2 linked regions of the Homo sapiens genome follow. The protein of the gene in region 2 interacts with the protein of the main gene of each other region in a pairwise test. Each region holds a gene or a part of one and is shown on either strand. Other genes may lie near its edges. The genes, in order: PKIA and PRC1.

Region 1 (7,667 bases), on a different chromosome or scaffold from region 2:
CTCAGCCTCAAATCTTAAGGCTATTTCAATTGTAGTTAATGGCAGTAATGCAGCACCAGAAAAAGATATTTTGTTAGAAGAGGGCAACTTTAACTCCTAAATTTTTACTCTCTAAATATCTGGTAACACTGTCTAGCAGACAAAACTTTTTTTTTTTTTTTTACACAATTGGAGAGCAGTAGACTGACTTCAGTTCTATCTTGTCAAACACAAAAGTGCCTGCAGTTCATTTAGTATCTAATCATTTAGCATCTAATCATGCACGTCCTTCCATTTTTCATTCCTCTTTCAATTCTGAACACCAGCCAATTAGTTTTTCCTCTCCCTAGGAAACATTTTAAGGAAAGGATATAAAGTCATAAATCAGTTTCAGACATAAAATCATACATATATTTCTGCTTAGCCTTCTAAATTTAGAAACTTTCCTCAAACTTGTTTAAACACAACAAAGTCCAAATTCAGGAATCCCTTCAGTTTGATTATCTTCCTCAGTTGTACTAAAATGAAAATTAAATTTTCTAACTTGTTTTCTTTCTTCTCAACAAGATTTCTCCAACTCCAGTCCATAACTTAGTGGGTTCAACTCACCTGCAAAATCACTAGCAAGTATTATTCCACCTTAGGCAGCACCAGTCTCCTAATCCTGAACCTATTTCTTGCCAAAGAGTTTAGTTTCTTCAGAAACTAAATGATAGACACTTCGAATTTCTAACCATCATTAGGATATTCTCACGCACTTGCTCTTCAACAGAAAGGTGACTGTCAACATTACAGAAACTGCATTGTATTTCTAAGATCAATTGTACTAATCTGTATTTCATATACCTTAGGTTATTTAGAATAACTATATTAAAATTCATTATTATTCTATATTAGTATTATTCAGAATAATGATGTATATGGTTAAGTATTTTAATAGTAGAAAAAAGGTGGTAGAATACAGGGTTTGTTGTTGATCTTGTTCTTTGTTACCTCATAGTTAATGTGACTGAGTAAAAATTCTAGAATCTCAAGAAGTTAATATTTCAAACCAAAACCCTGTTTAACACATAATAACAACAACAAAAAAGGAACATAAGGTTATTAAGACCCCAAGGGGCAGTTCCTGGAGTGGATCACTCAGTAGTGGGCTTTGCCCACCCCCTACACCCTCACCCTATGCCTCATATACTGAAGATGGAGACAAAGAAACAAATTCAAATCTTTCTAAAGTGCATTTTGTAAAAACGAAATTTGTAATAGAAAGGCAATAATGATATATAATATGATTAACACGATTTTCCATACTAGTGTCTTTGCTTAAAAATAATATTTGAAGAGGAAAGAAAGAGGTAAAATTTTAAGCTACCAACTCTGCCCCTCTTTTTCATTGATCTTCTAATTTAATTTACTAAAATAAAATTGCATGGCTGTTGAGTCAGACAGTCTCTGTAATTTTAAGTTTAAAGATAACAGATCTTCCTTTAAATAGAACATTGGCACACAGATACCCCACAATCTGGCTTATTGCAACTGTTCTCTGTTGGTGAAGTGGCACGTTTGCAATCCCCATAACAGCCATCTTAACCATTTCACAGCATATTATTCAAATGTACATCTCTAGGTGGCAACAAGGATAGGCACTTGGGCTCAGTAGCAAGGGGTCTGTGGGGAAAATCCTAGGACGAGGGATAGGAACCTGCAAATGGCAAGACAAACTAGAGGATACTCAACCAGAGGCTTAGATTGGGCAGCTCCATTGGCTTTCTGACTGCCTACGAGGAAAACCTCACTGGAAACTCTTTTGAGGTTCTTGAGGAATCCTAGAGGCAAACGGACTCCTCTGCCTTTTGGAAAGGATTTGTCCCAAATCTTAACAGCTAGCTGTCTCAAAATCCAACTGGACTAAAATTGCTTCAAGAAAAACTGGATGGACTGGCATTCACATTTTTACTTCTACCTATGCCTATGCATAGGGAACATCCCTCACACTCCAGTAGATTCTATCTGTCCTCTCTAGCTTTCAAGTAGCCACAGTGACTACAGCGAAGGGAGTTAATGGGATAACATGTTGGTACAGGGCCACAAGCAGGATATTTCATTCCATGCATTTGGGGGAAGGACACAGGTAACAGTATACAGGGAGAATACCGAATAAGAAATCTGTGTGAGGCAATGCCCTTTTTGGGACCTTGACAAAATCAGTCATGGAACCCAGGTGGTGGATAAGAGCTGACGAGAGTTGGTCTGTGAATGGGCACAGCATCTCCGAAAAAGATCAATGAAATGATTGACAGAGAAAATGGCAATTGAAGGAAGAAGCGATGTCAAGTGCTGCTCAACCCAAGCTGAACTCCAGGAGATAAGAGAAGTTTCCCCTCCAGATAGAGGCTCTTTCTAAAGGTTCAGTCTTGAAGCAGGTGTTTTGCCATTGAGAGGGGCACAGACCCATTCTGATAACTGGAAAGGGAGAGGACCAAGGACTACAGGAAGAGGGACGATTTCTGATTACCTCAGGCTGCTGCCAGGGACCTACTGCTCCAAATCCTCAAAATACTCAAGCGAAGGTAAAAGGCACAGAAAGCAAAAGAGTAACTCAAATTATTTTAAATTTTGAGTCCTCTTCACTGTCTACGCGAATCTGGCACTGAAATGGTAGATCACGTTCAAAAGAGTATAGAGGCAAGAACGCCTTCTTTGTTTGCCCAGTAACACTGCTCCTCCAACCTCTGCACTTGGCCGCCCAACATTTCCATCCTAGTTGTTGCTCCTTTTCTCATTGCAGAATGCAGCGGGGTTCTCCCCTTCTTCCCTCCGTGCTGCAAACCCCATTATTAACCAAGCGGAAAGCTCCACGCAGTGCGGCCAGGGCGCACCGGTGCCGGGCTGCTTACCTTCCCCGGACCTAGTCAGCGCAGGTCCCCGCGCACGCCGCCACGGGCCGCAGTCCCGCCGCGCCCGCCGAGTGCTCGGTCAGCTCGCGCCGGCCCGCGCCCCACCTGCCAGCAGCAGCCTCCGCTCCCGCCGCGGAGCTCCGGCTGCATGAAGTCATCCCCGCCCCGGGACGGATCACCACATTCCGCGCCAGCCACGGGGGGAGCGGGGCCGCTCCCGACCCCAGGGAAGGCAGCCTGGAAACGGCGCTCGACGATCGCTGCCCCGCGAGGTTGTGGATTGATTTTCTATTAATGCTTTTACAGCTGCAGCATCGCTGGATTATGGATTGAGAGAGAAGAGCCAGGGGGGCTTTCTCTGCATAGCGTCCTTCCTCCGAGCGCTCCCCCGTCACCCCGGCTGCATGGACTGTTCCATTTGCCCCTGTGGGTTTCCCACCCTCTTCATCTTCCTTATCAGCATTGTTCATTTGGCTGAATTTGAGAGCAGGAATTGTCTTTTAAGATAAACATTCAAGCACTACAAAAACATTTTAAATTGGTAATGAAGCTTTCTAAGCCCTTCATAGCTCTCTCCATCACCCCCGCCCCCGCCAACAGACACACACGCAAACACACACACACACGCACACACGCGCGCACACACACGTATGCACACAGCCAAACCACTCACAATTTTGAAAGCTAGAACCTTTCGCCCTCTCACCTACGTAATAGAACGGGAATCTCCTAAAAGACTGGAGAAGTGGGGCCAACCAGAGAAAGCGCTCAAAGAAACAGTGGGGTGGCCCCATGATTTTGTTGTGTTTATGGTGCACTTGTGCACAGATGTTCCCTCTAACATCTCTTCCTCCTACTTCCTTTGCTCTGGACCCCCTCCCCTCCCTGCCACATAATTGGGCAAACTGTTGTGGTGACAGCTGTAACATTTGGGAATCAAAAAGCAGAGTCTACATTAGCAAATGACTATCTCTCTTTCCCTAAGGATTTATGAAAATTTGCTTTGGGAATGAAATAAGCATGTATTCATATAAGCCCTTTCCTTCTCTTTTTAAATTAACACTAGCTGTTAACAAGACTGTTCTCTCTCCCCCACCCTCCCGTTTTGCTTCTTTCCCAAATCTCTTCAGGTTTGAGGGTTGAATGTTTAAGGAAAAATGGGACTAAATTTGCTCTCTTTGTAGCTGAGCCAGGGTTTCCGCCTAGCTGTTGAGTCATTTTCCAGTCGGGAGGTTCCTTGACACTAGGGTTCTGTGGAATGGAGTTCCCTCTTTTAACTTGCCTTGCTGTTTGAATTGACCGTCACTTGATACAGGCCAGCTTTACACTATGGATTTGTCCAGCAACCTAAACAGTGCAATTGCACAAGGCCAGGGAAGCACCTTTGCTAAATGAGATGTTTCCATCCATCTATCAGTCCCAAAGTTAGGTGATAATGTAGCCAACAGCTTTCCAACAAAACTTAGTTAGAATTCTTGGTCATAGAATATATGCTCTTTGAAAGCTAGAACAGCTTAATTCATCGCTCTGAGACTCACTTTCATAACATTAGCCCGTTAATATTACCATAGAGCAGGAGATTCTTAATCTGTATAAATGGAATTCTATTCATATACTCCTTTTATACAGATTAAGTATAATGGGAAAAATCTCATTTTTAGTTTCACTAACTTCTAACTGAAATTTAGCATTTAGCATGTCCTTTAAACATAATGTAGGCAACAAACCACAAGAATGTTAGGAGTACCTGGGACTTTGTTTCCAATAGAAACAACAGCTAATTCCTTATTGCTGTTTTTATAGATATCTCTATCACTACACTGATGTTATAATCAAATCATCACTACTTTTTTTATTTAATAGACTATATTTTTCAGCTTTGGTGTCCAGAAAAATTGAAGAAATAATACAGGGTGTTCCCATATATCCCATTCCCAGTGTCTCCTATTGACATCATACAATAGTAAGGTACCTTGGTGTAATTCTGGCATTGCTATAAAGAACTACCTGAGATTGGGTAATTTATAAAGAAGGGCTGGTGGTTCTGTAGGCTGTACAGGAAGCATGATTGGGGAGGTCTCAGGAAACCTATAATCATGGTGGAAGGCAAAGGGGAAGCAGGCAGGGCCTACATGGCTGGAGCAGGAGAAAGAGAAGGGGGAGGTGCTACACACTTTTAAACAACCAGATGTCATGAGAACTCACTACCACCAGAAAGCCAAGGGGGAAGTCCTCCCCCATGATCAAGTCACCTCCCACTAGGCCCCTCCTCCAAAATTGGGGATTACAATTTGACATGAGATTTGGGTAGGGACACAAATCTGAACCATATCATTGGGTTACAATCAATGAATGTATACTGATACATTATTACTAACTATAAATAAAGTCTAACTACATTTAAGTTTCCCTGGTTTTTACCTAATATCCTTAAATCTGTTCCAGGCATCCATCCAGGATACCACACTAAATTTAGTTGTCATGTCCCCTTAAGCTCCTCTTAGCTGTGATAGTTTTTCTTGTTTTTGATGACCTTGACAGTTTTGAGGAGTAGTGGTCAAGTATTTGCTGGAAGGCCTCACTGTTGCAATTTGTCTGATGCTTTTCTTATGATAAGACTGGAGTTGCGAACTATTGGCAGGAGAAAGAAAGAGGTAAAGTCCCTTTTCCTCACATCATATCAAGGTGCTATAGTACCGATGTGATTTATGACTGGTGATGTGTTGACCTTGATTGTCTGGCTGAGGCAGTGTTTGTCAGGTTTCTCTACTGTAACGTTATTGCCCATCCCTTCCATACTGTACTTGTAGGAAGTAACTACATGAAACCCAAACCTAAGGAGTGGGACTTTGGCTCTACCTCCCTGAGGGCAGAGTGTGTACATAAAGTATATGGAATTCTGTACAGGAGAGCTGTCTATTCTCTACCAAGTATTCAATTACTTATTGATATCAATATTATAGACTTATGGAGATGTATTATATTTTATGCCTTTGGTAATAATCAATTACTACTTTATTTTGTTGTTCAATTTGTTCCAGTTTTGCCCATTGGAAGCTCTTTCAGTAGGTTCCTGTGCTCCTTTGACATACCCCCTTTGATGTGTGAGTGTGCGTGTGTGTGTGTATGGCAGGAGCAGCAGGGCTGTTAACAATCCCTTACTTTATGGTATTATAAGTTCCTCCAGTCTCAACTTGTATACTTCCTTCTTCATTCCAAGAATCAGCCATTTCTTCATGGAGCCCTTGTTCCTTTTATGGGAGAATGGTAATACAAATCAAGATCTGGGTCCCAGACACAGTCATTATTGGCAGGTCATTTTGTTTAGGCCTTTCAACTAAGACAGTGAAGAAATATATGTGTATACTTACCCATGCATATATACATAAGTATTTCTATATGTGACCATTCTGTGTCTGTATTAAGCTAAATATGAGCACATACTTATGTTTCCAACTTTAATCCTTTAACACATAGATCATTCTAGCCTCCTCCCTTTGCTTGTCTGTAAATTCCTATTCCAATAGTGAGAATCATGGCTCCCATCATTCACTGTTATAATTGTTCAATTTCAGTGTACATGTAAAGCAGTATAAAAATTGTTAACCCTTTCCCACAATATCACAATTTTTAAGTAAATATATATAACTCTCCTATACTGTGTTTAATGAGTTTAAATGCCCATACCTTTGTATATCATGAATTTTGTTTTTAAATATTTTGATAACAGTATTTTAAACTTCGTAGTTTCCTTTCCAATTCTACGTATTATATTTTATGCATTGAAAAGCATCATTTTAAGAAGAGTTATGTAGGTTGCTTCAGATTGTCAAAGGGAGCCATGGCAAAACTTAGAATACAAACTGTAGACTGTTACTGTGAGGCTATAATGAGATGGCATGAAATTGCCACTCCAGAGCTTCAGGGAGCTGATACTCTGTCAGTGTTATCCTTGCATACTTGGGCAGGCTTCTGTCCCCTTTCTCCTTTGCAAGTTCTAAATACCTTGAATGAGAGAACATGTTCAGCCTTCATAATTTATCATTTAGTTGAAGGATTTGCTAGGTATCTCATGCTGAAGATAAAAGTCCTTATAAAGTAAAGAGGCAGGAGGATGAGAAGGTGAAGAGAACCAGAAGGTTGAGATGACTGTGAAGGTTAGAGATTTTGTAGTTGAACAGACTTGGGCTTGGATCCCCACCACTCACAGCCTGACTTTGTCTTGTTTCTGAGATGAAGACAACAATTGTCTCAAGAGTGAAAGATGTTTGATCTTTTCCTTCAAGTTGCCTGAGGCAGTAGGGATGCAACTGTGGCGACTTGGGACAGTCCCAGAACATGTTTTCTTGACCCCCCAGTGTAGTTTCCATCTGCGAAGCCAGACTCACTGAAGATAGTTTCTTGTGATAATATAGATACATTCATCTATCAAAGTATTCTTATCAGGTACTTTTTATTCATGGAAAGGAATCAGTGTGTTGATGGTGTTAAAGACAACAGTCAAAGACATTAAATGGCAGGATTGAACTGCTTCTGATACTCCAGCACGGTAAGAGGCATAGGGAAACCAGAAAGAAAAGGGGAAAGATATTGGGAAATGTCTTATGTCAACATATAGGGTTTGAATCTGTCTTCTTGGAACTTTACATACAGCAATATGTAATTTTTTTTAACCTATGACTTGTTATTGCACAAATTTTTTTTTAAAAAACCCTAAACTTTGGATCTTGACTTTGAGGTCTGCAATGCTTCCTTTCTGATATTCTCAAATTAGAGATCAAATGGCCTAGTGAT
Region 2 (5,286 bases):
CGGCAGGGTGAGGCTGGGAAGGAGGAGTGAGAAAGGGGTGGGAAGAACTGCTGGGGTAGAGAGACTTGGTTAACTGGACTGTGGCGATGGTTTTTCTCTTACGCTTCACATGTGTGCAGTTTATGTCCATCCTCCTTCAGTAACGCTGTTGAAGTTGGGCAGCCTCCCCATATTGAGACAAACGGCATTGAAGCCAGAAGCATCCTAGGACTCCCTTTGCTCTCTACACATCAGGGGTTAGGTTTTATATTTCTCACCAAAAAATTAGAGTAAGAGATATTCTTAATTTAGAAATGTACCAGAGAATATTTTAAAAATCACACTCGGCCGGGTGCTGTGGCTCATGCCTGTCATCCCAGCACTTTGGGAGGCAGGCAGATCATCTGAGGTCAGGAGTTCAAGACCAGCCTGGCCAACATGGTGAAAGCCTGTCTCTACTAAAAATACAAAAATTAGCCAGGTGTGATGGTGCGTGCCTGTAATCCCAGCAAATCGGGAGGCTGAGGCAGGAGAATCGCTTGAACCTGGGAGGTGGAAGTTGCACTGAACCAAGATAGTGCCACTGTACTCCAGCCTGGGCGACAGAGTGAGACTCAAAAAAAAAAATCACACTCCTGACTAAAAATTTCCAGGAGGTCCTTTTAGTTTTTTGTGTTTGTTTTTCACACACAGACCAACCAACTAAAAAGTGACTGGGGAAAAAAAGGAAACACCACACTATATCTTTTTGAAATGTAAGTATACAGATTTTAATTTATTTTTAAGAATAATTGTATATTTTAAAAACAGGACACGTACTGTATGAGTAAACAGCGTGGCTAACACCAAGTCCACACTGGTAAGCTTTTGAGAACCATTTACACTATGTTGACAGTAGTACTGCTGCAGGCAGACAGCGGAAGAATAAATAATAGTGCTTCAAGAAGAGTAGTGATTGAGAGGATAGGTAAAGAGGGCGCCTCATCGTGGAAGCTAGAGCAGGAACACCTCCCCAGTAGTGACATGTGCAAAGTTCCAGATCTCCACGACAAAGACAGCTCAACCCATTGGAACAAACAGACTCCCAATGTGGCTGGCAACTGCGGGGGTAGAAGAACTCAGGCAAAGTAGGCACAGGAATGGGGGAGATGAGAGCCAAGGGACAAACGCCGAGAAAGCGTTCCGACAAGCATGTGTGTTCATACATGCATACCCCCAACAAAGGGCAATGCACTGTGTAACAGAACTGAACACAATTTAACAAAGCTGCTCCCAGCCTTCCTGTCACCTCTTTGGCAGTAGGGCAGGCCATCTCAACTTCGGACACACAAAGACATTCTCTTCAGGAGGAAGGCTGTCCTGTGTGGTGGGGACAAGGCTTCAGGTAAGAGCAAAGCTATGATAGCTACAGCATTAATTGAACATGCCTAAACAAAAAAGATGTTAATTACTAGTTACAGGTATACATGCCAAAATTACCCCCAGGGATGGGCATAGTCAATCATTTTCCTACAGTGGTGAAATAAAACAAGCTTTGATCATGCTTCAGCAAGTAGAATTATGTGGTAGAGAAGTCAGGCCCCATATGCTAAAATTTGCACTTCTTGCCATAAACTTTTCATGTATATAAGTCAAAACCAAGTCTCCTAGGACCACTAAACCTATGATGGGCTTTCAACTGTAACACTCATTCACATCTTTAAGTTAGGCCCATGGTCATGGAACCTGGCCAAGGTTTCAAGCACGCCTAAGCTGAAGAAAAACTAAAGTCACCCCCATATAATTAGGTCCAGTCTAGGCACAGGAAGCCACAGCTGGTTGACTGATCAGGGCTTCTCAGGACTGGATGTTGGTTGAATTGAGGATTCCAGAAGTAGCATCAGATTTGGAAGCCTTTGAAAGTTCTCGCTGTTGAAAAATAAATAACATCAGTGGCCATACTGCCTCTCTTACACATGGCCCACCCTTCTAAGTTTGGTTAAGTGTCAGCAAAAGGTCCCTTGAAGGTAGTTTCTCTGAGATCCCTAGCCTGCAATAGGCTGCGTTAGGAGTAAAAGGTGAGGAACTCTGAGCACCATTCTATTAGTCACAGACAGAGTGCATGTGCACGCATGCCCGTGACCCCTTTTTCCTCAGCCAGTCCATTCTGTTACACCTCACAGAAGAGAAATCCTTCATACAGTCATGCACTGCATAATGATGTTTCAGTTAACGACAGGCCACATACACTATGGTGGTCCCATAAGATTATACCATATTTTTACTGTACCTTTTCTATGTTTAGATACACAAATACTTACCATTGCGTTACAATTGCCTACAGTATCCCAGGAATAGCCTGAATCAAAAAAACCCACAATTGCCTACAGTATTCTTTCTGTAACATGCTGCCCAGGTTTGTAGCCTAGGAGGAAAACGCCATACCATATAGTTTAGGTGTGTAGGCTGTTCTGTCTAGGACTGTTAAGTACACTCTGATATGTGCACAATGAAATTGCCCCACATTCTCAGAACATATCCCTGTCATTAAGCGAGGCATGACTCTACTTCACAGAGCTACTTTAGAGTTGTCAAGGTAAGTAGGCAACAAGCTTTGGTCTCTTGAGCCCTTTATAAAACAATGGGCCAGAACATATATCTACCAATCCCTGGGGCTGAGGCCTTGTAACCTGCTGGTGATTTGATCTCATGCTGGAGCACATGGTAGAGCAGCAAAAGATAAAGCATGAATGGCTATTGAGAAAGACAGATATTAGCAGAGGTTAGTTTACCGGCTTTGGTGCTGCCTGGTGGAGTCTATCAGCCATAGCAACCCAAACCAGACGAACCTACCTAGGACTAGCCACACAGATAGGCAGGTACATTTAAGCCTCAGATAAAATGGGCCTTGGTTGAACAAGCGAAAAAGAGAAAGCTGGACCTCTGTCCAGCAATCAGCCAGAGTGACACACACCCACTTTTAAAGGTAGAAGCACCACCAGCCACGTAATTTGAAAAACATGCTGGAGTAGGAAGCCAGTTTCAGTGATCAAAACTAGCTGCAGCCTTGGCCAACTGTTCCATTCTCTATCCCTGCAGCAATTAAGAGGGGAGGCAGGCTAGGGGTTTAACTCAATATCCCCTCAAGGGTGAGGAACATCCTCTCCTCTTGCTAGTAAAATATTGAGAGAAGAAATCACAGATTAAGTAAAAGGCAGTGTAGTTAGGTGTTAGCAAATATAGAGTAGGATACTAGGAAGTGAAGAGCATTCTGGAAAAACTTGCTTCCAGTGCTTCATCTATGCTTCAGTAGCTCAATGTATGGAAAGAGGCAAAGGTGAGGAAATCAGCATTAGCTAGCTGAGAATAGAGCTGGCGGTTAAGCCCTGAGGGGTTAGGAAGGCATATACTCCAGGAAATAATCAGCACACAGGCCAAGAGCCTCATTGTAGGCAGCACACAGCTGGGGCTCCCTTCCCCATGTGATTGGGGGCCTCTATTCTTTCCAGCTATTGCAGGCCTTTGATGTCACAATTGGGGAGGGTCAAGGTTTTCTGTTAAACGTGATTTAAAACTGTGCCTGACTTTAGGGGCTGAGAATCCAATTCAAGTCTGAACAAATTTTATTAATTAATCTGTTGTGAATGTAAATCAGATGTGTTTTTTTGAGTCCATGATAGGAATTCCTGCTTCCTTTGTAACACTGCTGAGATTATTAGTTAGTGTAGCCCTGTGCCCAGATGAATGAAGCCAGCAGATGACAGATCAGTTTGGAAAAGGGACATGCAGGGATTGCCATACAGACCTGAAGCCCAACAGTGGAACTGTCAGAGAGGGACGGATCCTTCTAAGAACAAAGAATTAAGACAATTACCAAGAACTCCACCAAGAGAGCACCAGGACAGTGATAGAGGGGTTGCCTCCTGCAGCCAGGGAATGGTATGTATTAAGCAGAAGGATCCAGGTTAAATGTCTAGTTGCTGCTGCCAACTTCCTTCCTACACAACCCCCCCTTAAATCACACCCACCCTGCCATGGTCAAAGCAGGAAAGGGATTCTCAGCCTCCAAGGTAGCTGCCCTAGCTAATAGCCTGGGTGCCCCTGGGAAGATACCCACTCTGCCCCAACTGTGTGCTCCCCAGAGACTGGTAGATATTAGAAAAGGTGAATTACCGCAAACTCAGAATAGGTGCTGGCAACAGAATTAATGCTGAAGTTGCGCTGGAGGGGGGCCGAGCCAGGGTACCCACCACTCAGGATGCTGCCGTTGAGCTCCAGGTTCTCCTTGTTGGCTCCATGCCTGCCAGTACGGGGTGTTTTCTTCCCTGAACAGGTGGAAGCAGCGACTGGCTGCAGAGAAAGGAAAGAGATCCATGTATCATCCTTCTAATGAACGTGCACACGCACACACAATACCTGCACTGGTCAAAGGCTGAGACTATCTTTATATTCATGTCTATAATCCTATACTTTTTAGTTAAAAAAAAAACATATATATATATATATATATATATATATATATATATATGGGGCTGGGTGTGGCTCATGCCTATAATCCCAACACTTTGGGAGGCCAAGGCAGGAGGATTGCTTGAGGCGACATGTTCGAGACCAGCCTGGGCAACATAGCAAAACACTGTCTCTAGAAAAAAATTTTTTTTAAATATGAATTCTTGATTTACAGAACACCTATCTTGAGCATAGTCTAATAAAATATTTGAAAGACTGAATGTGTTTTGCCACATACTTTCCACATCTCTACTGAGTACCTGGCATGTCTAGTGATCTGGTTTCACTGGGCTAGAACCCACATGTAGGGGACCTATCTCCATACCAGCTGAGGACTGGGCTTGGAATTGAGTCTACAGCGACCCTGCCTGATCTTCAGTTTCCCAGACACATCCCAGTGCTTCCCATGGTACCAGTGGGGCTCAGAGTGACTGTTCTCTTTTTTTGCACGTTAGTTTTGGACCATTATTTAATGGTGAGCTAGCTTATATCTGTCAACTCTCAGCATCTCAATAAGAACCAAATCCAGGGATCTTAGAATCTAGAACAAGTAGGTGGGGCCTCTGGGTGAACAGGCTAGGGACGCATGTGAGGATGTGCTTAGACACAGGGCATACTAACCTTGCTGCCAGAAGGAGGAAGTCGAGACACGGGGGAGTGGTAGACTGTCCCTCCAAAGATAGGCCGAATGCTACTATTGGCCGTAGCATTGGACATGGTGGTAGTGTTCAGCTAGGGAGAAGAGCACGTGGGTAACTGATGTGCAGTAACATCCTCAGCATTTCTAGCAACCTGTCTACCCTACAGAGAAATGACTAT

Evidence for each region.
Region 1: the proteins of PRC1 (region 2) and PKIA interact in binary tests that used the Homo sapiens proteins (3 or more experiments, as listed by UniProt).

The regions. Positions count from the first base shown.
Region 1 is NC_000008.11:78,511,675-78,519,341, reverse strand, and holds the start of PKIA (cAMP-dependent protein kinase inhibitor alpha), read right to left. Parts: upstream 3,003-7,667; 5' UTR 2,874-3,002; intron 1-2,873. UniProt on the Homo sapiens protein: Extremely potent competitive inhibitor of cAMP-dependent protein kinase activity, this protein interacts with the catalytic subunit of the enzyme after the cAMP-induced dissociation of its regulatory chains.
Region 2 is NC_000015.10:90,965,316-90,970,601, forward strand, and holds the end of PRC1 (protein regulator of cytokinesis 1), read right to left. Parts: intron 5,200-5,286; coding exon 5,089-5,199; intron 4,309-5,088; coding exon 4,132-4,308; intron 3,806-4,131; coding exon 3,764-3,805; intron 1,888-3,763; coding exon 1,816-1,887; 3' UTR 1,339-1,815; coding exon of another isoform or gene 1,264-1,338; 3' UTR 725-1,263; downstream 1-724. UniProt on the Homo sapiens protein: Key regulator of cytokinesis that cross-links antiparrallel microtubules at an average distance of 35 nM. Essential for controlling the spatiotemporal formation of the midzone and successful cytokinesis.